Linked DNA regions of Homo sapiens: regions 1 and 2 are each linked to region 3. The links come from fine-mapping of genetic effects on gene expression. A gene starts in region 3. Each other region holds a variant in brackets. All regions are shown on one strand. Distances are between the middles of the regions. Region 1 has its middle 62 kb from the start of ZNF365. Region 2 overlaps LINC02621 (long intergenic non-protein coding RNA 2621). Region 3 holds the start of ZNF365 (zinc finger protein 365).

What was found.
Region 1: its variant is fine-mapped to the expression of ZNF365 in sun-exposed skin (GTEx, PIP above 0.99). The same link has a PIP of 0.9 or more in unexposed skin.
Region 2: its variant is fine-mapped to the expression of ZNF365 in lung (TOPMed, PIP 0.99).

What each region holds. Positions count from the first base shown.
Region 1 is chr10:62,433,188-62,440,192 of GRCh38, forward strand. It overlaps a transcript of ZNF365 not described here. Among named protein-coding and RNA genes, the nearest start is that of ZNF365, 62 kb to the left of the region's middle. The variant G/A (reference allele first, on the strand shown) is at 2,927.
Region 2 is chr10:62,303,598-62,310,602 of GRCh38, forward strand. It overlaps LINC02621 (long intergenic non-protein coding RNA 2621), which reads left to right. Exons shown (of 4, transcript NR_186389.1): 4 at 1-470. Among named protein-coding and RNA genes, the nearest start is that of RTKN2, 38 kb to the left of the region's middle. The variant C/T (reference allele first, on the strand shown) is at 4,152.
Region 3 is chr10:62,370,512-62,377,516 of GRCh38, forward strand. It overlaps ZNF365 (zinc finger protein 365), which reads left to right and starts at 3,858. Exons shown (of 5, transcript NM_014951.3): 1 at 3,858-3,947; 2 at 5,670-6,425. The coding sequence starts at 5,683. It overlaps LOC283045 (a long non-coding RNA gene), which reads right to left and starts at 4,616. Exons shown (of 4, transcript NR_104162.1): 1 at 4,360-4,616.

The DNA of each region.
Region 1 (7,005 bases), 63 kb after region 3:
TAACTCCAATAGAAGTAATGAGTTACTAAACAGTTTAATGAGTTTTGGAGGCCCCTGAAATTTGGGTTCCTGAAATGAATTCTCTCAGACAGTAGACAAATGACTCACCAACTTTGGCCATCGAGGCGGGCTGAGTCATCTAAAGTCAGCTGAATCACCTGCTTTCAGCTCTGTTTTATAAGAATTGGGGCTGGCTGGATATTTCTGTCCCTCTGATTGCAAGTATTAAGCATTTAAAAAAACAGAGAATATGATGTCCTTCTTAGGAAAACCACACAAATTGCTCATGCACAGATGGACTGCATTAGTGAAAACAGATTAGTAATTGCTTTTAGTTCCTGATGATGAAAAAGTGGCTCTGAACACCTACCTCGCTGGATTCTTTACTCACCAGATAAACCAAGTGATACTTGATGACGATCCAGATTTGGATTTAAGAAGCAGAAGGTCAACTCCACAGAGCTCCAAGTCAGGTTGAGAGCATCCTGAGATGGCATCGGTAGAGCTTGCCTTTAAATCCTGGACCCCAATCCAGGCCAAACACACATTATGATTGGAGTTAAAAAAAATGTTTTCACAACAAGGAAATATTGAAATAAGTCAGCTAACATTTTCATTTGGAAATACAGAGGAAGTTAAGGCGTTTTGGGGGTGCTTAGTTTCCTTGTGTGTATTTTTATAGTTTTTTAGTGGGATGGAGATTTAGTGGAGGCAGGCTGGTACAAGGGAAAGAATCCAGGTCCAGGAACTGAAGATTCTTAGTGAGCTGTGTGACCCAGATGTACTTTCAGGGCTTTCTCAGACTTAGTTTCTTCTGCTAGTAAATGAAAATGTGTGTGTTAGTGTTTCCTAAACCTGCTTGAACATAAGGATCACCTGGGGCACGTGTTAAAAAAATCTGAATGCACTTGGCCTCACCCAAACCTGTCGGAATCCGAATCAGCAGGGTGAGGCCTGAGAATTGATATTTTAACCAGCACCTTGGGTGATTTTTTTGTTCAGACAAGTTTGGGAAACATTGAATTAGATAATCAGTAAGATATGCTTCGGGTCTAAGATTGCTCAGTGGTGCTTCAACACAGCAAACCTTATTTTTTTTTTCTCCCTGTAAATTGGAGAAACAACAATCAAATGAAAAACAAATCAACTGATGGGTGGAGAGGTTTTGGTGGGGCTAATGTGCAACTTTATCACAATGCTTACAAACGTTTGTGGGTATACTTAACCTCAGGTGCTCAAGGACTGTGTGTTGTCCCTGCTCTAAATTGATACTTCCTCTTAGGAAGGGCCTGAACAATTCATTCATCCTAGAATGAAGAGCCTTCTTGCATTTTCTCTCTGGCATATTAATATAATTAGATGTCGGTGGGACTGAGACTAGCAGGGAAAGCACTGAAAGCAGTCAATGACTTTACCTACTTGGAAGACTGCACGGAACCGGCTCCACTTGAAGTAGGAAAGCCTGCCTCAGAAGGACAGTGAAATAGGACATTTCTCCCCTAAGCAAGGAAGTATACTGGAAATCAGAACAAAATTAGTGTTGTCATTGCAGAGTGCAAGCTCTGGGCAGCCTCCTTAAGCTGTTTTAATCTCTTCTCACAAAGTCATCTGCTAACAAGGGACATTAGAATAACCTCATTCAGAAGAGTGAAAACTCATCAATCATACATTTCTTCTTTTAGTATTCAGTATTATTTATTGAGGAAACTTATTTATTCATGTCTTCAACATTACTTCTTGAATCCTCCCATGCATCAGACACTGTTTCAGACCCTCTGGATACAGCAATGAACAAGATGGGTTCCTGAATGCATGGAGCTTGAATTCCAGAAGCAGAGATAGACAATAAAATCTGACAAATAAATAAGACCATTTCAGAGGGTGGAAAGGGGTATTTTGGAAACTAAATAGAGAAACCAACTTAAAGAATGACTGGCTAATGACAGACTAAGAAAGATCTTAGTTTATAGGACTTGCTGAGATTTGGGAAGGACTATTTAGACATGATCTTCTTCACTCACAGATGAGCATGTGTCTCTGCATTGGTGGGTGAAATAATTGAGGTCCAGGGAGGATAAAGGACTGACGAAGGAAATGGCAAGACCAGCACCCAGGTCTAGCGTTTGGAGGTAAATTTTTTTCTGATAAACTTAACCTTCTGAATAATACTCCCAAGAAGAAGGTTTCATTTTTTGCCTCACACATGCCTGAGATATATTTATCTGAGTCCTTTTGTATTCAACACTAGCTCTGGTTTAAGTGATGAAAAAGGTTAGAGATCTGGAATAGTGCAAGGCTCTCCACCCTAAATGCTGCAGAATGTTAGTAGCCCATTTTCAGGAGATTAAAGGATAACACTCGGCCAATAATAGCAAGATACCATAGACTTTTAATATCATCTGACAAAGACTATGGAAAAATGGCTTGTTCCCAATCAAGGGAGATCTATAATGGCTTGATCATCAGAAATGAAAAATCAATCCCAATTCTCATCCATTCTTTTAGCTACCATGCATATTATTTTTACCATGGATATTTACAGCTACATTTCCATCCAGACTTCTGGCAATGCCTAAATTCTTCCATAACAAGAAAACAAACTCATTTCTTTTAAAAACCAGTCTCTTCCCCATAGGCAAAGTGGATAAACAGCCTACTCAAATTTGATGTCATTATCTGAAATATCTAGCAAAAGACTAGTTGTATAAAAAATGATATTTCAGCATTGGTGCAAAAGAAGGCTACCCATTCTGACAGTTCTGTGGTATTTTGTCCTTTTAACTTAATGCTTGGAATGTAGGATTTCACACCTGAGACTCTTCAAAATTTTTACTTCATGGGTATTTGGTTTTTTTTGTAATACCGTAATACTTTAAGACTGTTACTTTTCTTTCTTATTCAGCCTTACTGATGCACTGGTCTGAAC[G/A]TCTTTGTGAGTTTCACTTATATATATATAAAGGAGCCACCACCATCTAATGTATTATAAAAGATACTATAATTAGCGTGTAACTGGCAATCCCACCAGGCAAGCAAGCAATTTTCCAGGCCATGGGAATTTTCTTCTAGACAAATAGGAAAGTTCCAACAGCCATATAAATTAAATAGGGTAAAAAGTTGGTTAACTGGTACTAAAGTAACTAGAACCCTTAATTAAACTAAGTGATTATTTTGGGGAAGTTAAAAGAGGGTACAGGGAATCATTCTTTATATTTAGGAGAAAAAAAAGCCACTGGCAAAAAAATAAATAACAATTGAGATTTAGTTACACAATAAAATTATAGAACATATCCAGATTTGTAATAACACATAAAAATATAATGCTAAAAAGGATAATTTTGATGCTTTACAAGACCTTAGTTGTTAATTAGGTTCATTATTTCATTAAGGCAGGAAGATTTTCACCAAGAAATTTTTATTCACTAAGAAATGAATATTTCCTGAAGCCTTTTGAATCTTGCCAGCACCCTTCATGACCAACATCATTGCACTTACTAAGTTCCTGCTTCTTGTTGAGCAGAGCCAATTAACTGAAAAAGCTAATGATGGAAGGACAACCAATTGGGATCTAGTAAGATCTAGCCCTGTAGCTGGTAACATTGTGCCAGGAATTTAATATGCCTGAGCAGGCTCATCTGTAAGATGGTTATGATAGTACTGTTTATATCATAAGTTGGTTAGGAGGGTTAAATGCCTAGCTCAATGCACCGTAAACAACGAGTGCTCCAAAAAATGTGGCTAGCACACACACACACCAAGCATTTCAAACAAGACCTATAAGCAGATGGACTTCTGACTATAAACTTTCTTATAAATTCCACATAAACTCTCTCTAGCTAAGAGGGAGAGTCAAATACCACATTTAAATGTATGTATGAGAAATGTATTCTCTGTTTCCAGTGATTTCAGAATCAGAGATCATTTTGGATGGTTTATTTTAAAGTCTTCCACAATCTATACCCATAGATACAAATATATGTGTCTGTGGGTGTTTTGGAAAATAGGATTGGGTGGAGGCAGGGAAATGTATGTGGTTGAATTCAGTTAAGCAACTGGCTGTTTTGCGACTAATGATTTGTAAGTAGCAGTTTGGCTGAATTTAACTTTTTTTGTCTTTAAAAAATGTAGTTTTCTGAAATTTATCTAAAAAAGTTGATCTATATCAAGCTTTAGGGTAACTTCGTCATGGTTTCCTTGCTTTCTGGAAATTCTACGCACGTCATAGAGTAAATGTCAAATTTTAAATAGGAAATCAATATTCTTCTCTAAGAGGCTTTGAGAATAAATAGCTATTTTAATTCTTTCTCAGGAAGGGATTTCATAAGGAATTGTAATGACGGAAGCAGACAAAGTTTAAAGCGAGTTTTTAGCAAGTTATTTACATCTCATGTTATGTTTTCCAGGCAGTTAACAAACAGCCAGATCATCAGAGTAAGGTGTAACTCATAAAGCTTTTTCCTTCTAAATTCACACATATACGTACGTGTGTGTGTGAATAGTATATGCAATTTAAAGGTTGTGAGATTGGTAGCAAATGCACTTTTCTGTAAATCTCCTGGCTTCTTTTCCTTCCTTTGACCAGAAACAAGCAGCCCTGATAATTATATTCTCTACCACTAGGGGGTGACAGCTGATAATCTATCCACATACTTTAAAGTAAGACAAACCACAGGCTTGATTATGTAGGTATTAATCTTTCTTTTATTGGTCGCCTGGTGAGATTTGGTTTGATGAGTTTTATTTGCTGAACACGCTCTACATCCAACATCATTCTTCTGTCGTGATGCATAGCATGGGCCTGTTGGAATAACAGCTGGTGCTGGACAGCTTTGTAGATTTCAAGTAACTGTGTATGGGAAATTAGTTAACAGATAGGAGCATTTATTCACTCATGCATTCATTTCATAAATATTGAGAGTCCACAGATCCTGTGACAAGGACTGAAGATACAATGGAGAACAGGAATATTATATCTGTTTTCATACAGTATTTTCTTGTTTTTGTTTTTGTTTTTTTTTTTTTGAGACAGAGTCTCACTCCATCACCCAGGCTGGAGTGCAATGGCTCTATCTCAGCTCACTGCAACCTCCGCCTCCCAGGCTCAAGCGATTCTCGTGCCTCAGCCTCCCTGGTAGCTGGGATTACAGGCGCAGCAACCATGCCAGGCTAATTTTTGTATTTTTAGTAGAGATGAGGTTTCGCCACATTGCCCAGGCTGGTCTCAAACTCCTGGCCTCAAGTGATACACCCGCGTTGGCCTCCCAAAATGCTGGGATTACAGGAATGAGCTACCATGCCCAGCCACATAGAGTTTTTATTGAAAGGGGAAAGACTACAAAAACCAGGTAAACAAACACATACATAAAGTAATTTTGAGTGTTAACAAGATAGATAAAGGAAAAAAACATGAAGGGCAGATACAGAATAACTGGCATTAAGGAAGAGATATAACATTAGATCAAGTCACTCCCTTATCTAAGGCCTTTGCTATTCTCTTATGTAAGCAGAAGATTCAGAGGCACACTGTGCCTTACTCCGGGTGCTTTCCACTTGAATAGATTCTGGCAAAATCCTCATAACTCAGCATTTCGGTGCCTTTGAAGCTTGCAATAGCTGATGAATGGTATCTAGCACCAGTATCCTTCCTCAGTATGCTTCTCACAGTACTTAGAAAGCTTTATTAAGGTAGGCATCAAGCAGAAAGAATTTGCCTGGTCTCTATTCCTTCTGCATTACAGCCTCACTAACTTGCAAGCATTTTGTCTAATTAGCTAGAGTGCTTCTTGAGAAATACACACACAAACACATTTCAAATAGAAAATAGTGCTCATTTAAGGTCATTTAGCATGGAAAATAAAATTATTCTAATGGTATGAATATCGGTAAGACTATCACCTTGCTGTTGTTGATACTACACTTATGGTTTCTGGTCAGTATAGATATTTTAATTCCATTTCCCACTTTCTTAGTTTTTCTCCCTTACTTGAAATCTCCTTCATCTTTACCAATTTAAATTCTTCTCATCTTTCAACTAATAATGGGTCTATTCTTTCTCTTCTCGGTCTCTGTCTTCCTCTCTCTCTTTACATTTTCCTCATGCCATGTGTATTCCTTCATTGTGTTTATTCCAGAAGCACTCACGTGATTGAGCAATTGATTAAATAATCTTTACTTAGAATTTTATGATTATTTCAACTCTAGCAAAAAAAAAAAAAAATGTTGACTCACTACCTAACAATGCCTCCCTTTCCCAGATTCTCTTGCAGCTAGGGATGGGATGTGTAGCTCGGTTTAGCCAATGAAGCATAGGGGAAATACACTGATATCTTCTGAGAAAGACATATTCTTTATAACAAAGATGGGAAAGCATATGTGCAAGCCCTCTAATAGCTGTGGCTCTTCCTTTGCCCTGACTTTGCATGAGGTTATAAAGGATTTAATGTCTGGATCTGCAAAATTATCTTGTGAACAAAATGGGAAACCCAAGGGACTCTTGAAGATGTCAACCCAGTGACCTTGACAATGTGGAGCTGGTAAATCAGCTCTGAAATGACCATCCTCCAGCTTCTTATATCTTCTATTACTTAATTTAATGTCTTTATTGTTTATGCCACTAATAATTTGGTGTACTGTTACTGAGAGCCAAACATATCCTAACTGACACAATCTAAATATTAAAATCCCTCAAAAATATCATCTCACTTTTAATTTTGATACTTCTTAGAACCTGGCCCAGTGCTTGAGACAGAGTGGTGGCTAAATAAACATGTGCAATCTGCATGTTTTTCCTTTGTCCTGTCCGCACTTTCTCCCGCACAAAATGGACTTCTTGAAATTAGTCTCATATGCTTATCTAAGAGACTGCTAAATTGGAATAAGGAACTTTGCCTATGGAGTCTGTTATACAAAATGCACGTATGTCAGAGGATACCTTAGGCTCATTTTGCCATGCAAATGCTAATAATTATAAGCTTTATGAATGCATAGTTTTATTTATTTATTTATTTA
Region 2 (7,005 bases), 67 kb before region 3:
CTAAGCCTCAATTTTTTGGCTGACTTTCCTCATTCATAAGGTTGTTGTGAAAAACAAAGCAAAACTAATCAATATGAGTAAACTGCTATGAAACACTGTCTATTATATGTTTTCTTGATAAACATTTATTGAGTGCTGTCTTTCAGTTGGTCTCCTGTGTTAGTAGCTTGTCATACAGAGCTTCAAGAAGTCAAGCTTCAGGCCATAGTCACAAAGAATTCAGCTCTGATTTGGAGAGATAAATAAGTACTTAGGGTGAGGTTGTGTACTAACAAACCCACTGTAAAGTCAAAAAATTGTAAGCCAAACCGTCAAAAGTAAGAGACTGTATATGTAACTATGTGTGTGTGTGTTGTTGTTTTTAAGATGTGTTTTGGACAAACGAAAGTAAAATCTCATTTAAAAGATTGATTTTAAAAGCTTCCTCAAAGTTTTGTCAGTGCATTATTAGAGATCCAGCCCAATATTTGTCATCATTTGTATCTATTATTGCAGACAATGAGAATAAATGTTTACAAGGTGATGCAGCTATGCTATGTGAATCACCAAAGATTAAATAATCATCAGTATACATTTGTGTGACATATTTTTGCTTGTATTTTATAGATGTAAAAACAAATAATTCATCTATAATAAAAATGATTGGCTGGGCGCAGTGGCTCACGCCTGTAATCCCAGCCCTTTGGGAGGCCGATGTGGGCGGATCATGTGGTCCGGAGACCGAGACCATCCTGGCTAACATGGTGAAACCCCGTCTCTACTAAAAATACAAAAAATTAGCCGGGCGTGGTGACAGGTGCCTGTAGTCCCAGCTACTCGGAAGGCTGAGGCAGGAGAATGGGTGAACCCCAGAGGCGGAGCTTGCAGTGACCTGAGATCGCGCCACTGCACTCCAGCCTGGGAGACAGAGCAAGACTCCATCACAAAAAAAAAAAAAAAAAAAAAAAAAAAAAAAAAAAAAAAAAAAAAAATCGCACTTTCTAGAATTCTAGCTTGTTTGCAACACACTATTCCATGATGACAATGTCAGATAAATTAGCTTTCTCTATTAAAAAAGAAAAGCACTTTCTGGTTTAAATTATGGATTATGAAAAGTAAATGGTTTGTGGATAAACTGAAGATGCTTTTGCCAAAACTAGAATTTTTTAAAGAAGAAAATGATTTGGAAAGGTTGTTCCTACAGCTAGAATTTCTCAAGAGTTGAAGCAGAGCCTTTATATATTTAAATTAAAGTGAAAATAGAAAGTTTAAAATATCCCTCTTGCACCTTTAAAAATAAAGACTCCACTGTGTTCATTCAATCATTAGAGTCCTTTGGTTCACAAGTTCTACAAGTGATTTGTCTGAAGGGACTGAATTTTTGTAACTGAATTAATGACCTATTTTGATCAATTATCTCTATACCTAAAGAACCTCAGAAATTACCCACGTCAATATACTCTCTCAAGTGGCTTATTTTTCAAAACCTTTCTCACATTCCTACTTGTGTTTAGTTTGATCTTTAAATAGAATGTTATATAAAATGCTTCTTGAAAACTGTAGTGCTTGAAAAAAATTCATGGAATAATTAAAGCAATATTCTTAAACAAAATAAAATAACATGAAGAAGTGAGTAAACTTCTTTAAAAATCATTTTGGCTTTTTTGTAGCAATTTCAAAAGTCTATGTTACTGGTGCTCTTATAGAAACAGTACTACTCCACTTATTTGGTACCTAATTGTTCCTGCTTCTGGATTGTTATTGTTCCCTAGTTCCTTCCTATTCCTCTATCACAACTTAACTCCTGTGCTCTGCAAGAGACTAAATCATATGACTTTTGATGTTTTCTCTGTTGATAGTTCCTGTTAGGAATAAGATGGGGACAGAAGCTGAAGCTACTTACAGAAAGGAAACAAATGGATTATTGGTTGAAAATTATTACCTATCAAGTTATAACCCCAATCACATCGATGACCATGACCATCATGCTCAATACTGCACCTGGTGTGGAGACTGGCATGGTGTTCAATAAATATTGGTTGGATAAAATGACTCCTATCAGTCCTGAGTCTTGCTAATATGCATGACAAAGGCAGATTGTATAAACATGGCAAAATCACTGGAATATTAATCATAAGACCGAATTGGTCAACAATATAACACTGGACAAGATGCTTTGTTTATCAGGTCATGGCTTTTAAATTTTAAAATGAGTCTCTTGGACTGGAATACTACTTCAAAAATATTTTTATCTGTTTGTTTTTGTTTTAGTAAGGGGGCATTATATTAACAAGATATCTTACGTGGAATATCAGCATCTTTATACAACTATTAGAAGGAGAACACATTTGGTTTCAAACAAGATCAGAAACCCTCCTACTCTTTGTTGACTATCCTGCACTGCTTCCTCTCCTAGCATGAGTCTTCAGTGACCTTTTTTTGAACTCTCAAGCTCCAGAGAACACAGTTTGAAAGCCAATGGGCTTAGTTATTTTAAGATGCTTGTTTGAAAATTTTATGACCAACAAGAAAAGATGGCATAGTGAAGAAAAAACACACAGTTCTCAATGATAGTTGGAATCAGGCTCTACCCCTGAGCTATGGTTGGAATATGTTCCCAAAATTTATATATTGGAAACTTAATCTCCAATGCAGCAGTGTTAGGAGGTAATGGTTACCAGGAAGTGTTTACGTTATGAGGGCTGCATCCTCATGAATGGATTAATACTGTTATTAAAAAGGCTTCACGAGTGGGTTCACTCTCTCTTGCCTTTTGTCTTCTGCCATATGAAGATGTAGCAAGAAAGTCCTCACCAGACCAATTGCTGGTATCTTCCTCTTGGACTTCCCAGTATCCAGAAATATGAGATAGTAAGTTTCTGTTCTTTATGAATTACTCAGTCTCAGATATTCTGCTATAGCAGCACAAAATGGACTAAAACACCCTACATTACTCCGTGACTTTGTAAGTCATTTCTTGTCTGTCAGATAGAACTACCCTGCCTAATAGTGGTGTACTGATCAATGACTATATAACTTAGGAAGTAATTGTTCTGATTATTGCTAGAAAGCAAATTTCCTAAAACTTTTGTGGTTGAAATAGCACCTCAAGATTGTGTGGGTCAGGATTTCCAAAGCGTTTCCTTAGAGGAATTTTCTGTTTGCTTGAAGGTATTCAGCTGGAAAATGGGCTGGTTAGGATTGTCCACGTGAGTTTCACTCACATGTCTGTATTCTTGGCAGTGAAACAGGAAATTTACCCTGACTGCTTCGCGGGCAGGAACTAGAGTGCCGGCACTGGAGCTAGCTAGCTGCTTCAGCAACAGCAGGGGCAAACTTCACTCACTGGAACCTACTGTGCTCAACCCCTCGCGGGAAGGAGCATGTGGGTGCAGGAGCCGGGGCAACTGCTTCTGGGCACCAGCAGGAGCACAACTCCATGCGGGGCCTGCAGCAGCATCTAGTGGGGGGCACTCCCCCTTAAGCCCAAAAAGAAGTGTTACAGTCAGCAATCCTTTACCATTGCTGTCTGCAGACGGCTTATGTGTTAGCAGCTCAGTGTAGGGTCAGTGTGACACCTTTTGCATGCACCCTCTTGGCACCCAAGTTCTTGTCTAGCATTCAGGAGGAATTAGCTCACATAAGTGAGTTGAAGATGGTAAAGGTGGGGGATTTTATTGCTGGTGAAAGTGGCTCTCAGTGGGAAGGGGAGCTGAATAGGTGATGGAGCAGGAAGGTGATCTTCCCCTGGAGTCCAGTTGTCTAGGTTGGACTCCTCTCTGAAGCTACCCCGTCAAGCTGTCCCTCTGAAGTCAAATGCTTCTCTCCAACGTTCAAACATAGTCTCTGATGTCCAACTGTTTTTCCTCTTCTCTCTCTGCTGGCAGAGCCTAGGATTTTTATGGACACACAATGAGGGGTGGGGTGAGCCATGGGTGGTTTTGGAAATGTCAACATTTGAGTGGGAAAACAGGGATGTATGTTCTTACCTTGGGCTGTGGTTCCAGGCTTGAGGGTAGGGCCCTCGCTGGGGACCCATCCTCTTCTGCCCAGAATTTCCGTGCCTCTTGTCCCTATCATTAGGGATGGATGGATGACTGGAAGCCTGGACTCAGTCGAGACTGGCAACAGGAGTGCCTACCCCAGTTCTTTCCAGCATGACAGACTCAGGC[C/T]GAAGTCTCCAAGAATAATTTTCCAGCAAATGGGGCAGAAGCTGTATGGCCCTTTATGCCCCAGCTCTGGAAATCACTTAGCATTCCTTCTGCCATACTCTACTGGCCTAAGATTTCACAAGCTTGACAAGGTTCAAGAGGGAGGAATGGAGACCACACCTCTCAATGGGAAGAATGTCACAGAATTTGCAGCCATGTTTTAAAACTATCAAAGTTATTATAATCTTTAGAATCTGCCTCTTACTGCGTAAGTCAAGAAAAATTGATAAGAGTAATAGAATTCTCTCCACTGTCATAGGAAGAGAATATTGCAAGGGTCCACACTTTCTTGCAAATTTTATATTATGATTAAATGTACCATGCTGAACCAAATGCCAGGGGTCTCTTGAGTGCTATCCTTCAGGCAAGACTTTCACCTGTGCTATAGAATGTTTTTGGCAGAATTATTTGCCATCAGTATCCTTCAATATAAACAAGGCTTTTCTAGTAAGAAAGTGCTAACTCACTCAAGCATTGTTTAAAGCTGCTTTTGGGAATGACTCTTACAGTTCCTGGTATGTAGACTTTGTTATGCAACTAGAATCATTTGAATTTTTGTTCTTGCCTCCAGTTATACCAGAAACAAATAAGTTAAAATTCTAGAATGTTTGTTGTCTGGAGAAATATATTGAACACACTTTTGGACACAGCTTACTCTTTTAAAAAAATGTGCTATTATGTGGAAAGATAATTTAAAAGTGTTTAGGAGGCTAAGTTATATGTTGTCTTTGATACCGATAAAATGGACTTGGCTGGACTTTTCCTAAACAGATGAACGGTATCAAGGAGTCTCGTTCCACCACCGAAAGTCATTTTTTTTTTTACTTCTACTAATTCCACATATCTCCTGGAGAATTCTTCTCCTTGTGTGGAATATATAACTAAGAATTTTAAAAGATACATTAGGGAAAACAATATTGGGAATCAAATCAGAATACTTTGATGGAGAATTGCCATAGAATTTTTCGTAGAACTAAATATGAATTATTTTTCTTGTGTCTTGCACAAGACCACCTTATACCAAGTGGGTCTGCAGTCAATGACGATATAACCACCAAAATGTCTCTTTAGTCACCACAGCAGTCTCTAAAACTACCAGTACAGGTTAAGTCCTTTGTTTAAATTAAGGTAACTGGTCAATTAGAGTTCTTGCTACCCTTGGAGAGGTAACAATGAATAATTATCAGCAAGTGCTGCAGAGCTCAGTATTATTATCTGGGTAACTTGGCATCACTGAAGAGAAGGGAGGACAGTGTTCTGAGAGCTTGTAGCACAGGGAAGATAACCACAGCAAGGAGCACTGCTGGGATGACAGACCAGAGACACCACAACAGGGATCCTTGAACTCCAAGGGGTAGCAACAGGATATTGCAAGCAAGAGACACAGAGAGAAAAGCTGGGATGGAGAGCAAGATGGAAGGGTACACCATGATAAATCCTGCTTGTATTGTTTTGTATAAGGTCCAGCCTATCTCTATATGTGTCCAGTTTAGGAAAATAAAAGAACCTAGTCAACACCTTGGTTATGATTCACTCAGCCTCTCTATTTTTCAGCCTTACTAGGCAAACTATAGACAGGATTGTAAAGATTTGATGAAATGGTATACCTAGCAGTATCTGCCAAAAAAGAAACACTTCATAAGAAGTTCTTCAGTTCCCAGAAAGAAACAGATGGCACATTGCAATGAATTAATTTAAGAGTGTTTTGAAAAGGGACTTTTTATAAAAAAGACATGGATAGAATATAGTGAAAACTCAAGCTCAGTACAGCTGGCCACAATGACTACCTGAGGCCCACAGACGGAAGAAAAGGGGCAGTTGTGAGAACCTGGAGACAGAGAATAGTGTGAAGCGAGCTGCCTGACTGGAAGCCAGACAAAGCCAGTTTACAGCAACCCTGCAGTGGGGAGCTGATATGGTGTGGTTGTATCCCCATCCAGATCTCCTCTTGAGCTGTAGCTCCCATAATTCCCACAGGTAGCTCCCAGTGGGAGGGACCCAGTAGGAGATAATTGAATCACGTGGTAGTTTCTCCCATACTGTTCTTGTAAGTCTCATGAGATCTAATGGTTTTATTAGGGGAAACCCCTTTTGCTTGGTTCTCATTCTCTCTTGCTGCTGCCATGTAAGAAGTGCCTTTAGCCTTCTGCCATGATTGTGAGGCCTCCCCAGCCACGTGGAACTGTGAATCCGTTAAACCTCTTTTTCTTTATAAATTAGGCAGTCGCAGACATGTCTTTATCGGCAGCATGAAAATGGACTAATACAAGAGCTGGGGGAATAAACACTCCAACCTCTTCCTCCTCTCTCCTTTTAGCTCCCACTGGTTCTCTTCACTGACCACATCCAACTGGAGCTAAAGGGTAAGGAAGCCCACTCGTGGTATCCATATAGGTCAGCCTCCTAGGGGCACAAAATGGGGTGTGTGGAGATTGGATTTGGAGGGGCAAGTGGAAAAGGAAGCTAACACAGTATCCATAATAGTAACAATAATTACTATTTTTATTTTTATTATTCCAGCACCTGGCACCAGAATACTGAATGCTTAGCATAATGTCTGGAGCCTGGATGTGCAATAATAATCTGTTGAACGAATGAACAAATTCCTGTCCACGATTGCATCTGTAATGCAAAATGTTCACCACTTGCAGAGTCCAATTAACAAAAGCAAGAGCTAATACAAAGAAAGTGACTTTGTATTGCAAAGATAACTTATGGGAAGAAGTACAGGATTCCTGCCTTAAGGGTATTACTTTGCTTCTGGAGAGAATGTGGGTGCTTTTAAAGGGGGAGACCTGCACCGAGGTGGAAGTAA
Region 3 (7,005 bases):
TATATACATCATATATATCATATATATCATATACATCATATATATCTCATATATACCATATATATCTCATATATACCATATATATGCTCATATACCATATATACCATATATACCATATATATCATATATATACCATATATATGCATATATATACCATATATATCATATATATCATATATATACCATATATATCATATATATCATATACACCATATATATCATATATACCATATACATCATATATATCATATATACCATATACATCATATACATCACATATACCATATACATCATATACATCACATATACCATATACATCATATACATCACATGATATATATATCATATATATCACATATGTGATATATATCATGTGATATATATCATATATATCACATATGTGATATATATCATGTGATATATATCATATATATCACATATGATATATATCATATGTGATATATATCATATATATCATATATATCACATATATATCATATATATCATATATATCACATATATTATATATCATCTATATGATATATCACATATATATCATATATATCATATATATCATATATATCATATATATATCATATATATGATATATCACATATATATCATATATATCATATATATCATATATATATCATATATCATATACATGATATATATATGATATATATATCATATATATATCATATATATCACGTATATGATATATATATCATATATATCATGTATATGATATATATATCATATATCTCATATATATATCATATATATGATATATATCTCATATCTATCATATATATGATATATATCTCATATATCTATCATATATATGATATATATCTCATATATCTATCATATATATATGCCTTGTTCTCATTCCACTAGTTGTAAGTGCCTGGAGGGCAGAGTAAAACAGCATAATGTGGCATAGAAAAACATCAGTGTTTGAAGACATGAACTCTAACCCTGATTTTATTCTTTATTACCTATATGACTTTAGGCAAGTCACTTTACTTCCTAGAACTTTATTTTCTTCATCAAAAACTGGAAAGCCAATGAGTACAGTGGTTAAAAGCCCAGGGTTTGCCATCCTGGCTGTAATGTGTTCTAGGTTTGTGATCTTGAGAAAGTTACTTAACTTCTTTGGGCCTGTTTCCTCCTATGTAGAAAGGGGATTTATTTCTTCAGCATTCATTCTTTTAACAAATATTTTTTGAGCACTTTGATCAGCACTGTGCTAAGTCCTGGGAATATACTGGAGAGTAAGACAGACAAGGACCCTGACTCACATAGCTTACAACTTAACAGTGGACATAAATATTAAACAGACAACTACATCCATAACCCAGCACATAGAATTATTGTGACAAATCCTGTCATAATAAATTTTCCTAGTACGCACTAACCTTGTCCAGGAGTGTCAGGGAAGACCTCCTCAGAGAGGGCATACTTGGGATGAGCTCTGAGGGATGAGTAGGCATTACCAGATAAAGAGGCCCTAGAGACGGGAAAAAGCAGGGCTCTTAAGTAAAGGGATGCCAAGGTGGCTAGAACTGAGTGTACAAGGTCCTCCCTACCTCACAGGTGTTCAAAGATTAAATGAGGTAATTGGTGGTATACACAAGTGACACTTTGAGAACCACTTAAGGTCCTAAATGCCTGTTGACCAAGTTGAATTTCCCACAATACTCAGCTTTAGGCCCTGCACAGAATAACCTCTCCATAATTATTTGATAATATTTTATATTTTTAGGGTGAGAAAAGGACTTTGAAAATCTCCATCCTCTCATTTAACAGGGGAGGAACTTAGGACCAAAAAAGAAGTAGCAGCTGTCTAAGAAATGGGAGGAGCTGGCTGGGCGCGGTAGCTCACGCCTGTGATCCCAGCACTTTGGGAGGCCGAGGCCGGTAGATCACCTGAGGTCAGGAGTTCAAGACCAGCCTGGCCAACACGGCAAAACCCCGTCTCTACTGAAAATACAAAAATTGGCCGGGTGGTGGCAGGGACCTGTAATCCCAGCTACTAGGGAGGCTGAGGCAGGAGAATCGCTTGAACCCAAGAGGCAGAGGTTGCAGTGAGCTGATATCGCGCCACTACAGCCTGGGAGACAGAGTGAGACTCCGTCTCAAAAAAAAAAAAAAAAAAAAAAAAGGGGCGGGGGGGAAGGGAGGACCAGAGCATGCTTTTGTTATGTTTTGCCATGAAGGCAGTGGGTGTAAGAGGTTAACCTGCAGGCACCTCACAAGATGACGGAGATAACTTGGCACTCCAATGAGTGTATCTTTCAGACTTTAAGATTTTGTACTAAATAAATTGATTCTTGGAATAGTCTTGAGAGCGAGTCAAAAAGTAACTTCAATGAGATATAATATTTTCAAAGCAAACACACCCCAGCACAATAGCCTATCTCCATTTACGTAGAAGTTAGTACATATTAATTCCTCTTCTCCTTCCTGCTTTTTAAATGTGTGTAGGCCCCTTTTTTATGGAATTAATAATAATTATAAATGAAGTAGCAACAACGATAACAGCTGACTTTATCAGTGTGTGTCCCTGTCAGGCAGGGTTTTTACCTCCATCATCATAGCACATTCGATCCACCGCTATATTAAGAGGTAGGTCTTGATTATCTTCATTTCATAGATGAGGAATTGAAGGAACAGAAAAGTCTAGTTACTTGACCCAGGCCCTAGAACCAGGATTTGAATCAAGTCTGATGCCAGAGCTTGGGATCTTCATTGCATTTGATGTGATAATTCATTTGTGAAAAAACAAAGCAATTCATTTGTTTTCATTTGTCAAAAACAAAACAAAATTTCAACTAAGATAACTGTTGAGCTCTTTACCGTTAAAATAAAATCGGGTGTTGAAATGAGTAACAGCAAGCCTTGAGAAAAGACACCCTGAGAAGTCAAGAGGATGCATTAACTGTCTACAGATGAACAGAATCTCTTCTCTTCTTTGAACAAGAAAACCCAGCAGTAACTTTTATCTAGGTTTCACATTTCAGGAGTTACAGTAGGGGTAAACCAAAACAGGTTAAAAAAAAAAAAAAAAAAAAAAAAAAGCAAAAGCCCAGCAAGCTGAGACATCAGAGTCCTTCAGAAGGAATGATTTGCCGTCTTCTCTTCAGGACATCCCCTCTTTAGGAGGACAAATTTTTTCTCCAGGGAAAGGGGCGTCCGCCTCAGAAATGGGGGTGTAGGTGAGGGATCTTGTTGCTTTAACTGTTTGTTCATTAATCCCTGCACTTTACTAGATTTAGTTCTGCCTGTTAACGTAGCCTCAGGACACTTGGCTAGGAAGGCTGGAGTGTACTCTCTGGGTTAGTTATTTTGGGACATTCTCGCCCTGCTGCTTGGGATGAAGAGGTCCTAATTAAATACCCGGACCTTCCAACGGGTAGATTTTCAAAGAAGATGCCCAGCTATGCTGCATCCTCATCCACACTCTCCCGCTCCCCCCAAACTAGTGCAAAAAAGCTTGCCAGGGCCTGCAGAAAGCGCCGCGACTGCGAGGCTGACACGCGTCTTTCCTTCCCTCCCCCGGGGAATGATCCCAGCATCTCTCGCAGTGATGTCAGTGTAATCCTGAGTCGGATCGGGCTCCCGGCTGGGTGGCGGGGGGGCAGATGATGCTCCCGCCAGCTGGGCAGAGCAAGGGTGTTCCCCGCGGAGGTGGCAGCCCTGGGCCGCGGCGTTCCGGAACCCCCGCACCCACGGCGCGGTGCCCCACGGTGCCCGCGAGCGCCGCCCCCGCTGGCTAGCCGCGCCTCGCTCCGCCCTGGACGCCGCCGGTCCCGGCGCGGAGGTGCGGCGGGGAGTGGGAGCCGGCCCGGCTCAGTCTGATTTACGGCTCTGCTGAAAACCGCTTCGCTCCCGCAGCATCAGCACCGGAGGCGGCGGCTGCAGCAGCAGCAGCAACAAGTCGGGTAAGAGGCGGCCGCCGGCCATCTGCGCCCGCGGCTCGGCGGAGGGGACCTGCCGGGGTGGCCGGGGCTGGGGAGGGGGTCCCCGAGCCCGCAGCATGGCGGGGAGTTGGGAGAGCCGGCTTCCCGGCCCCCACCAGCAGGAACTCATGTGCACACGAATCCACTCTGGCACCCGTGGGCTGGCACGCAGCGGAGAGGGGGCGGGGAGAGCTGGGACCCCGGGGCAGGGTCATTGCCAGCCTGCCCTTCTCTGGCAGAGTCACTTAGGGCTCTTCATCAGCCCAGTGGACTGGGTTTCCTCTGGGCCCATAAAAGCCTGCGTGCTCTGGAGTGTGTGATTACCCATTTCCCCATCCAAAATGCCACCCTTTTCCCATTGCCCCCTTAGAATCCTGACTTCCCCTTTCCTTACCTCTTGTCAGCGTCTTTGGCCCTATGCTGAGCCAGGGTTTGCATCTCGTTCCCAGAAAACCAGTGGTTAAACATCCCGGTGTACCCATCACAGGAAGAGGTTCCCCTCTCTGGGGGCCGGGGGCTTCACCTAGAAGCCTTGCCTGCCTCGCTGCCTGGGGACCATTTGCACCTCTGCTTTTGAAGAGGTTGAGGACACTTTTCACCCAAAGACCCCAGCTGGGCTCCCTCATTTCGGGTCCAATGCTTGTTACATTTAAGTAGAAACCTTTCATGGAGGAATAGAAGATATGCACTGCTTGCAGAATTGGGTTGCCAACAGTCATCTGTTGCTAGGGTGAAGATAATGCATTCCTACAAGGAAACCAGAACTTCCTGTTATTAAGAGAGTATGCTGATACCTACCTGGTTCACACACTGACCATCCCTAGAGGTTGTCATATAAAATAGCATCTGAGACAAGACAAATCCGTCCAGAACACTCTATTATAATAAAAATCTTGGCCATGGCCCCACTTATGCCAAATGGTATTTGACACATTGGGTCCCCAGGTTTCAGTGAAACTCACGTATGGGGTCTGTTATTGTTACGATTAGCACTTTGGTTTATGTCATCACAGCAATACCTGAAGGAAAAAAAGGCAAAAATTTCAGGGTGAAAAATTTTCAGCTGATTGCAGGCTTAATGCCACTGTGCATAGCTTGAGTAATCTTTCCTGTACTTGAGGATAGGTCCTGAGCTTGCTGTCTTAGGACCCATTTTGACAATTCATGTGAGTTTTCATATGTTCTTGTGTTCACGCATCTCGGATTGTATCCTTAAAATGGGGCACGGTTTTGCATTTAGTGTGCCAAATTCAGGAGGGGAGGAAACTTGAATTCCACTTCTGGATCTACCACTTTCCATCTGACCTTGGATTAATGGCTTTACTTCCTTGCTTCAGTGTTCTCTTCTGTGGAGAGGGAATGTTACCCACCTTTTTGATTCTAGGTAGGAGTTGGCAAACTTTTTCTGTAAAGGTAGTAAATATTTTAGCTTTTAGGAGCATAGAGTCTCTGTCTCAGTTACTCACCACTGCCATTGTGGTTTACAATAAATAATACAGAAATTGATACGGCAGCAGTAAATAATGCAGAAATTGATGTGGATGGATTTGGCCCATGGGCTGTAGGTTTTAAGTGCAACATAAAATATTATGTGCAAAAGTCACTTGAAACCAAAAAGCCTCTGCTGTCATGGAGATGAGCAGCAATCATTTTAGTAGTGTGTTTTTCAGCCGACTTGTAAACTACCTATTTCCCCCCTCCCAGGACTTTTAGAGTAATGCAACAGAAGGCTTTTGAGGAAAGCAGATATCCCTGGCAGGAGTCCTTTGAGAATGTTGCTGTGTGCCTGCCATTACGCTGCCCGAGGTGTGGAGACCATACCAGATTTAGAAGCTTGTCATCCTTGAGGGCCCATCTGGAGTTCAGTCACAGCTACGAAGAAAGAACCCTCTTGACAAAATGCAGTCTCTTTCCATCCCTCAAAGACACAGACCTAGTCACTTCCTCAGAACTCCTGAAACCGGGAAAATTGCAGAGCAGTGGCAACGTGGTAAAGCAGAAACCGAGCTATGTTAACTTGTACAGCATTTCACATGAACATTCCAAGGACAGGAAGCCATTTGAGGTGGTGGCAGAGAGGCCTGTGTCCTATGTGCAGACCTACACTGCCATGGACCTCCATGCAGACTCGCTGGATGGGACACGGTCGGGTCCTGGACTGCCCACCTCAGACACCAAAGCTTCTTTCGAGGCACATGTCAGAGAAAAATTCAATCGAATGGTTGAGGCTGTGGATAGGACCATTGAGAAGAGAATTGATAAACTCACCAAAGAGTTGGCCCAGAAAACTGCGGAACTGTTGGAAGTTCGGGCAGCTTTTGTGCAGCTGACTCAGAAAAAGCAGGAAGTTCAGAGACGAGAGCGGGCCTTAAACAGACAGGTGGACGTGGCCGTGGAAATGATAGCTGTACTGAGGCAACGCCTGACGGAATCTGAGGAGGAGCTTCTTAGGAAAGAAGAGTAAGTGTTGCTGACAGGGGATGCTAACCCCATTGCTTTAAGCAGCACCCCAATCGCCTTACAAGCAAATGCTAAGCAAGGTTGATTTTTGCTATTTGCAGGTGCCTTGACTGCATTTCTTATTGATATAGTTGAACCAGGAGGAACAAGGCTTTGATATCATTTACCCTCTGTGTGCACGGTCTGCAACCTAGCAGCATTAAAGTCAAATATCTAATTCCTTCTCAACTGGGAATTTGTAAACCACAGACTATGCTTTTAGAGAGAAGACTAGCACAGCCTAGCCATGGTGGGATCCATTCCTAGCACCAAATGGCGTGCAAGGGTGAGTTGAATGGGAAGGCAGAAAGGGTGAGCTAAGTGAGCTGTTCATTCTTGACAGTCTCCGTATTATAAAGTCAATGCAAGATGCTGTCTTAAGTTCAAAAACATTCCTCCAGTATAAATAAGTTTGGTTTATTTGCCATTTTGTATTATCTGCCCAGGTTAATTAAATGTTAGTAGCTGAGAATCCATTTAATTTAATTTATATTTGGGAGAAGCAGACATTAGGGCACCCAGAGGAAAGACTTTCTGATAT